2 linked regions of the Homo sapiens genome follow. The protein of the gene in region 1 interacts with the protein of each later gene in a pairwise test. Each region holds a gene or a part of one and is shown on either strand. Other genes may lie near its edges.

Region 1 (5,268 bases):
CAGTGCAGTGGTGCGATCTCAGCTCACTGCAACCTCTGCCTCCCAGGTTCAAGCGATTCTCCTGCCTCAGCCACCAGAGTAGCTAGGACTACAGGCGTGTACCACCATGCCCGGCTAATTTTTTAATTTTTAATAGAGACGGGGTTTCACCATGTTGGCCAGGCTGGTCTCAAACTCCTGACCTCAAGCAATCCACCTGCCTTGGTCTCCCAAAGTGCTGGGATTACAGGTGTGAGCCATTGTGCCCGGCCACACTGACTGCTTTCTATCATCCAACGTGAGGTACTTTATTGTTATCAGTGTGGCTTACCCTAGGTTGAATGTAAAGATTAACTAACCTTCTAGGCCTTGTTGTTTACGTTCGATTGTCCTCTTATACTCTTCAAGTTCTCCTTCTGTGAGATGACTAAATGGGTTAGGAGGAGCTGGTGGGCCATGATCATCATCTTCAAATTGCATAGTCTTACAAAGAAAAAATAAAAATCGATTCATTACCAAGAGTTTTACTTATATATCTATCCATCCATCCATCTATATACACATAAATGCAAATATGATGTTTGTGAAGCCTTATTTCACAACAATCCTAAGAAATGCAAGGTAACATGCTTTGTTTAAAATGCTCTTGTAAGATTGATGCCCTTAAACTACTAATCCAATGGACTAAAATTGCCAGTGATATTTCCTCAATAAGCCTGTATAAGTAAATCTTAATAATTTTTAAAAACCATTATGCCAAGTTCTAATAAGTTTCACATAAAAAAAACTTGAAAAAAACAAGAATTGCTCCATTTTAAAGACCACTGTAAAAAAGGCTTACAGAAATGAAACTGTACCAAAAGTAGTTCTTTAAATCTGTTACGAAAATAAGCTTGTAGCTGTTTTCTCCAGGAAAGGAAATAATGAGAATTTCAGTTGCAGTTGGCATATGGAACCCATGTATTTATTTTTCATCCCTCCCAAAACCCCACTAAAATGATAGTAAAGGAATAGAAAAAAACAAAACAAAACACCCTTAAGGACAAAAGAATGTGAGATGAAACAACAAAGGATGAGAAATGTTAACATATTTTTGGAAGCTGGAATGCAAGTGGAACAGCAGGTAGCAGAGCTGAGAAAGTTGAAGCCTCAGTCCTGAAAAAAAGGATGCAAATGAGAAGCATGCTTATTTGCCCTGAAGAGGTCTGGTAAGGCCCATAAACTAGAGGCAATAGGTACCATAGAAGGTGGTGGTAAGGAAAAGGTGAAAATAGAGGAACATGTTCAAAGTCTGAATAGGAAACAGATTCCCAGGTTCCCTTCCCTATTCCACAGAGCCAAGCATTTCCCTCTCTCTCATCTCTGCAGAAGATCAGAGGCTTGAGAAAGAAAAACTAGGCTGGGCGCGGTGGCTCACACCTGTAATCCCAGCACTTTGGAAGGCCAAGGCGAGCAGATCACCTGAGGTCCAGAGTTCGAGACTAGCCTGACCAACATGGAGAAACCCTGCCTCTACTAAAAATACAAAATTAGCCGGGCATGGTGGTGCATGCCTGTAATCCCAGCTACTCAGGAGGCTGAGGCAGGAGAATGGCTTGAACCCGGGAGGCGGAGGTTGCCGTGAGCTGAGGTCACGCCATTGCGCTCCAGCCTGGGCAACAAGAACAAAACTCCGTCTCAAAAAAAAAAAAAAAAGAAAGAAAGAAAGAAAGAAAAACTAACTAGGGGACACAAAATACAGTTGCAGGCTCCTAGAATGATGGTTGGAAACTGGCAGGAGACTGGAGTTCTTTTCCAGATAAACTAAATAGTCCCAGATAAAAGAATTACAGAGAATAATGTTTGGGGATTCCCCAGAGAAACAACCTGGTCCACATCCAATCACCCTACAGTGAAGCCCACCAATCCCCGAGCTCTGTGTATACCCAGAGCTTCTGATATGCTTTAATGTCTCATTCTTCCATATAAACAGACATACGGAACAACTCAGAATAGACAAAGACAACAAAGGCAAATGAAGAAAATTTAAAATTGATACCCTTAGAGCAATAAGAGAAAGTGTAAAGATCAGGATGTTATTAAAAAGGAACATTCAGGGAATAAGAACTCTTATTAAAAATAAAAAAGTTGGCTGGGCGTGGTGGCTCACGCCTGTAATCCCAGCACTTTGGGAGGCCAAGGCGGGCAGATCACGAGGTCAGGAGATTGAAACCATCCTGGCTAACGCGGTGAAACCCTGTCTCTACTAAAAATACAAAAAAAATTAGTCGGGCACGGTGACAGGCGCCTGTAGTCCCAGCTACTTGGGAGGCTGAGGCAGAGAATGGCGTGCACCCAGGAAGGCGGAGCTTGCAGTGAGCCAAGATCGCGCCACTGCACTCTAGCCTGGGCAACAGTGCGAGACTCCATCTCAAAAAAAATAAATAAAATAAAATAAATTAAAAAAGTTAACATCAAAATAAAAAATTAAAAGGGTTAGAAAACATTCTCCCAGAAAGTAGGATACAAAGATAAAGAGATGGCAAGTAGGAGAGAAAAGAAAAAAATCAGAGGCTCAAAGAGGCCCAACATCCAAACTAACATAATATACTGACAGAAAAAGAAATGGGAAGAAAACACTCTTGAAGAAACACTTTTAAAAAACTTCCAGAACTGAAGGATATGACTCTGGAGATTGAAAAGGGTTACTAATTACTTAGAAAAAAGACTAAAAAGAGATCAGCACACAATCATAAAATTTCAGAACAGCAGGGATGCAGAAAGGGTCTAAAAGCAAAAAAAAAAAAAAAAAAAAAATCCTAAACAAAGGTTCAGGAATTCCAATGCCTTCCTACTTCAACAATAAAATAGGGAACAGAATGATGCTTTTCTTATTTCAGGGGAAAATTATTTCTAAACTATTCTATATCCATTATATGCACATTTGAAGATAGAATAAAGGCATTTCAGACTGTTACCACCTATGTATCCTTTTCTCGGAAAGCTATTAGAGGGTGCGTTCTACAGTAAAGGAGGAAATCAAGAAAGCAGAAGACACAAGATACAGGAAACGGAATACAATATAGATCAGCAGCACAGGAATCCTCCAGATGAACCTGTGCAGCTGGCCTGAGAGCAACCAATTTAGATTTGGATCAGAATGAAGGGGGGCTGGAACAGAGAGATTACCTGTTGACTTTCACCCTGTGGAAAATAATATTAGGACAGATTTTATGTTATTCTTATTTTTTGAGACGGAGTCTCGCTCTGTCACCAGGCTGGAGTACAGTGGCATGATCTTGGCTCACTGCAACCTCTGCCTCCCGGGTTCGAGTGATTCTCCTGCCTCAGCCTCCTGAGTAGCTGGGACTACAGGTGCACGCCACCACGCACAGCTAATTTTTGTATTTTCAGTAGAGATGGGGTTTCACCATGTTGGCCAGGATGGTCTTGATCTCTTGACCTCGTGATCTGCCCGCCTCGGCCTCCCAAAGTGCTGGGATTACAGGCGTGAGCCACTGCACCCAGCCGGGACTTTATAATTCTTTTAAAAAGTTCGGGAAGAACTAAGCCAATGTACCCCAAATAATAAGCCAATGAAAAAAAGGCAAGGTGAGAGTAGGGAGGGGTGACTTATGTAAGAAAGGAAATACTACCTGGCTTAGCAGCAAACATGTAGTAATATAAATAACGAAAGCTGATCTAACAGAAAAAAACAAAAAACAAAAAACAAAAACTGTGATGTATCCTTACTGGGAGAATGGGGAGAGGGAAAAAGGGAAGCACTGTATAAACAGGCTAAATCCCCATCTTTCAAAAATATTTCATTAATTCTAAGATGAACTTTTTCCATCTCTGAAATTGGGAACAATTATAATTGGCAGTGTTTTTTCTCTTTTAGTGACATATAAAACAATGGTACTTCTTATAACGGATAACACAGATTTGATGAAAAATAGTCAAGGTCTAAAACTGATAGACCAAGAAAAAGCAGAAGATGCTCTTTAGAAACATCAAAGGAGGACGAGGAGCAGTGGTTTATACCTGTAATCCCAATACTTCAGGAGGTCAAGGCTGGAGGATCACCTGAGATCAGGTGTTCACGACTATCCTGGGCAACAGAGTGAGACCTCATCTCAACTAACTAACCAGAAACACCAAAGTAAACATTAGAAGCAATGAAAAGAACAGAAAGTTGCTGCACCTGGAAACTGGGAATTGTGGGTGACATTTTAAATCTTGTGAGTTGACTTTTTAACTTGTGCTTATATTAACCTTAGTAAAAATAAATATTCATATTTAAAAATCAATGAAATTAATGTGGTAAATAAAAAACAAAGATCATACTACTTCATAAACTTACAGAAGGTGGCTTATCCACAACAATTCCAGCAAGCAACTGAGATTGTGGTCCTGCTGTTTTCAAGTCATATCGATTTTGTTCCCGAATCTGAATTGAAAAACAATTCAATATAAAGTTCTTGAGGGCAACTATGCAGATGACCTTTGCTTTATCTTTTCATAAAAGCTTACTACTTGACATTTCCAGAGTGAGAGTCTCTTCAATTCCCACCTCCATAAAGACCTCTTTTACCATCCTAACAACTCATATTAGTCTCCTCTGCTCTTTATGGCAAGTTATTTCCTTTCGTCTTAGGTTGTTAGAGAACTGCATTTTCCCCCTAATAGCAGGGTTCTCTAACGCAGAAAAATGTTCAATACATCTTCCCCATGTAGCCTGTTCACCAATTACTAGCACAGAGCTGGAGGCATTCAATATAAGCTAAAATTATACTGAATTAAATTCCAAATTCTTCTGTATTCAAACTTCTAAGTTTGGCATTAACCAGATTCAACCACTGGTGATTTAAACATAAAGCAATTAAAATGTCTCCCCTGGCTATAGAAGACCATGTCTTACCTTATTTCTCTTTTCTAGTACCTCATTCGGGTTTGTGTTTAAAGGAACAAACTGATTTGGATCTTCAATTTTGATAGGTGTTCCACCACTAACTTTAGATGAGTCTTCTGCTTTCATCCACTAAAGAATCAAAAATTTTCTAAAATGAAGCTTTGTGTTAAGAAAATATTAGTAGATTGTTAGATAACTGCTTATAGTCTCAAGAGGGGCATTGCCAATGTTTAAATAATTTCACTAAGCAGTATCTTAGTGGTGAATTAGTTTCATCTCATACTAGTTAGAAAAGGCTCAAAATCAACATTTACTTAAAAAATAAATGCCATTACGATTCACATAAATATTCAATTATACTGCTAATTAAACTTTCTCCTTGTGTCAAGTGAAAATAT
Region 2 (3,500 bases), on another chromosome or scaffold:
GACTACAGGCGCGAAGTTTTGTATTTTTAATAGAGATGGAGTATCACCATGTTGGCCAGGCTGGACTCAAACTCCTGACCTCAGGTGATCCACCTGCCTCGGCCTCCCAAAGTGCTGGTATTACAGGCATGGGCCACCACGCCCAACCGACAATTGCTATTTCTGAGAGCTCACAAACTACTTTTTTAAAAAGAGGGAGGGCTTTCATTTTTAAAATGCTGCAGAAATACAATGGACTGGTATTCTAACCCACCAGTCTAGAATCTAACCCGTGGATTCCAACCCGTCAAGCCCATTAGAATCTAACCCATGGATTCTAGTGGGCTGAAGTGCCTTTCCAATTTAGTCTTCTGTTTCCTAAACTTGACTAGCCCACCGGGATGTCGGCCTTCCCCGGGCTGTCACTACTGTGTAGGCAAGACATCCCAGAGGGACCTTGCTCCACGGCAGGGAGATCCCTGCTGTGCAATGAGAGGCTCCCCATTCCTTAATGTGTCCAGGTGTCCCGAACCCCTAGGATAGATGTCAGCACCCCAAAACTGCAGGACATGCGTGTTACCTGTGGGGGGTAAGGGTTTGTTCTCAGCTTTGTCTTCATCTTGGTATTTTTGGGTTTCACTAATTTCCTAGTTTCTTGTGAGGTAGACAAGGCGGTCCTCCAGGAGTCCTGGGACTTGGCAGTGGACACCTGCTCCAGGGACAGCTGAAGTTCCTTGTATTCAATCTCCCTGGAAGGCGAGAGTGGGCCGAGTCATGTCCAGCAGGCGCTGGAGGCCGAGCAGCTTCCCTGGCCCCAGCCCTTGGGCAGGGCGTTCTCAGTGCTCCAGTGTGTCTTTTCACTGGGATTGGATGTGGATGGGATTTGAGACAAGGCCAGCTCACCCTCATTATAAAAGCCATCTGCAGCCCCAGGCTGGGCCACCCCAGGAAATGCTGAGCCAGGTCAGAGCTCTCTCCAGTCCAATAAAACCCCAAACACATTGCTCGGGGAGGTCGTGGGCCATGAGGAAAGCCACCAAGGGAAAAAGAGACAGGCAGAAATACCATTGATCAGGTCCACCTGCATCCAACATGCACACCTGTGGCCCAGCTGCCTCTCCAGTTAGCACCCCAGGAGGCAAGAGTCCGGGACTCTTCACAGGTCTGGGAGCCTGACCACCAGCTTTGTGCATTCTCACATCGGGGGCCCATCTCTGCCCTAAAGAACCAACTCAGCAGGGTCATGTTCACACAAGGAGAGGTCGACCTGGAGAACCAGCCCACACATTTGCTCAGGAAGAATAACTAAAGGGCTAAACTGTTTTCTCCCTGACAGTTTTGTCAGAATCACTTGACTTCTAAGACACAGTCATTCTATGAACAAACCTAGAGCCTAAATCCTCACCCCATGTAAAGTGCAAACGAGAACTCTTTTCATCATGGGGCTGGCGGCATGGCAAGGGTCACAGCCTGGAGCAAGGTGATTGAACGTACAATAGCTATGGTGGGTGGAAAGTAATATATGGCCCCAGATAGACATCTGTCCTATTGCTTCTAATGGCCTTAAAAGTATTTGCAGGCTGGGCACCGTGGCTCATGCCTGTAATTCCAGCACTTTGGGAGGCCGAGGTGGGAGGATCACTTGAAGCCAGGAGTTCGAGACCAGCTCCTGGGCAACATAGCAAAACCCCGTCTCTACAAAAACATATTTTTTTTTAATTTACAAAAAAAAAAAGGCATTTGCGACTGAACTTGACCTTCTGGAGTGTTTAAAGGACCAAATATTCACCATGATTAATTTGTAACAGGCTCTATAAGAAGACAGGTAAAAAATGGGATATTTCCTGTCTCAAACAGCAGGAGCATCTAAGATGACCTAAAGGCTTATAGGCATGGATAGCACAAGTTTATATTCTTGATGGGGGGTGTGCACCCTCTTTGCACCCTATTCAGGATGGGGGGCATCACCATCCGCCCCCATGCTCCTCACTAGGTTCTGTGATGGGATCCGAAGCTATGCCCAGGGCAGGCCCCCTCCTCCTGGCTCCCCCTGCAGCCTAGCACTTGGCTTTCACCGCTGAGCATAGAAATAGTTTGCACCTTCCAAAATGACCAGATTCCTAAAAAAAAAAAATTAAAAAAAAGAAAAAAAACAGAAGACAAATGAACAGTTTGAGAAAGAGAGAAAGAGAGATGGTGCTTATTGGAGCCATCCGATGTGGGACAGGGAAGAGAAAAGAGCAAGGAGAGAAACAAATACGTGTGACTTACGTGAGTACATAATTGACACTCACGATGCAGTGGGGCCGGGACGAGCGGCTGTTGTGCACCACGGTGGCGTAGCTCTGCACCCACACCCAGCCGCCCCGCTTGGACAGCAGCCGGTAGTACTTGGTGGTGACCTGGCCCTTCACCAACACTGCAAGCACAAGGTGACAGGAGTCCTCAGACGCTTCGCAGGCCCCACCTCTGGGATGCTGCCCCCAACGGTGACCTCTGTCCCAAGGACACCTCTGAGAACTTGACAAAGGGGGCGGGCTTTCTCCGCTGGAGGGTGCATGTCTGTGTGCGTCTCGTGCGTGCACACACACACACGCGTGCATATACATGTGCACACAGGAATTTTGCCTTCAGCTTCAAGGAGTTCCCACCCATTAAGAACTCTTATTTAACAGTCATTGCTTTCATTGAGGGAAACATTAGCCACCAAAGTTTGTATCTGGCAGAATGAAAAAATTCAATCTGCTTTTTAGTTTTCAAAATGCCACAATTATGTTTTAATCCCCAAATCCTTAATGGGGAGGGGGGGTGAGTGATGTAGTTATTTACACAAAGTAGTCAGTTAAGTGCATTCAACCAAGTGTCAAGCTGTTGCTGATGTTTGCTGTTCAGGAACATGAGGGTATTCACAGTGAAACTGTTTGTTGCCATTTATATTTTCTTCCCATTAATCCCAGTTTTCCTTGGGCCCATTAATTTGCTATGTTGTTTATGTAGGAAAGACCTCTACTTGGCTGCAGAGTTCCTGAAAATTGGGCCTATGGGCCTGTCTTCTATGCTTGGGTGCAAACTCCAGGCCGCTAAGCAGCTCAGCCAAAGGCTCGGTGCACCCATAAACCACAATTCCACCTCACCGCCTTCCAGGAGGCAGGTGGGGGAGGAAAGTGCCAGAACCCGCAGGTGGGCAGTGGAGAGGTGAAGCTTCTCCAGGGAAGAGGAGGATAGCACAAGTCTAGAAAGACACCCTTGGATGTCTGGGTCCTCAGCTCCAGAACATTCCTGCTTCTCAAGGCAGGACTGGCCCCTGGACCTAACTAGCAGCTGCCTGAGCAGAGATCTGGGGAGGTGGCCAAAGGGGCTGAGTCTGTGACTGTACCAGCTGGGGCTGAAGGAAACTCCCCAAGGTGCATTTCCAACAAAAATTCAGCCTTTGAGGCTCATATGCAACAAAAATTCAGCCTTCCTGTCATACCGCTGGGCAAAGCCCCCAGTCTCTGCCCAAACACTCCTGGGCTGTCTGT

What was found. Proteins that work in one complex are often made in the same cells at the same time.
Region 2: the proteins of ADD3 (region 1) and SIM2 interact in a two-hybrid assay, tested with the Homo sapiens proteins (one large-scale study listed by BioGRID and IntAct).

What each region holds. Positions count from the first base shown.
Region 1 is NC_000010.11:110,125,557-110,130,824, reverse strand, and holds part of ADD3 (gamma-adducin), read right to left. Parts: intron 5,000-5,268; coding exon 4,880-4,999; intron 4,409-4,879; coding exon 4,322-4,408; intron 463-4,321; coding exon 339-462; intron 1-338. UniProt on the Homo sapiens protein: Membrane-cytoskeleton-associated protein that promotes the assembly of the spectrin-actin network. Plays a role in actin filament capping. Binds to calmodulin.
Region 2 is NC_000021.9:36,740,615-36,744,114, reverse strand, and holds part of SIM2 (single-minded homolog 2 long isoform), read right to left. Parts: intron 2,399-3,500; coding exon 2,251-2,398; intron 729-2,250; coding exon 560-728; intron 1-559. UniProt on the Homo sapiens protein: Transcription factor that may be a master gene of CNS development in cooperation with Arnt. It may have pleiotropic effects in the tissues expressed during development.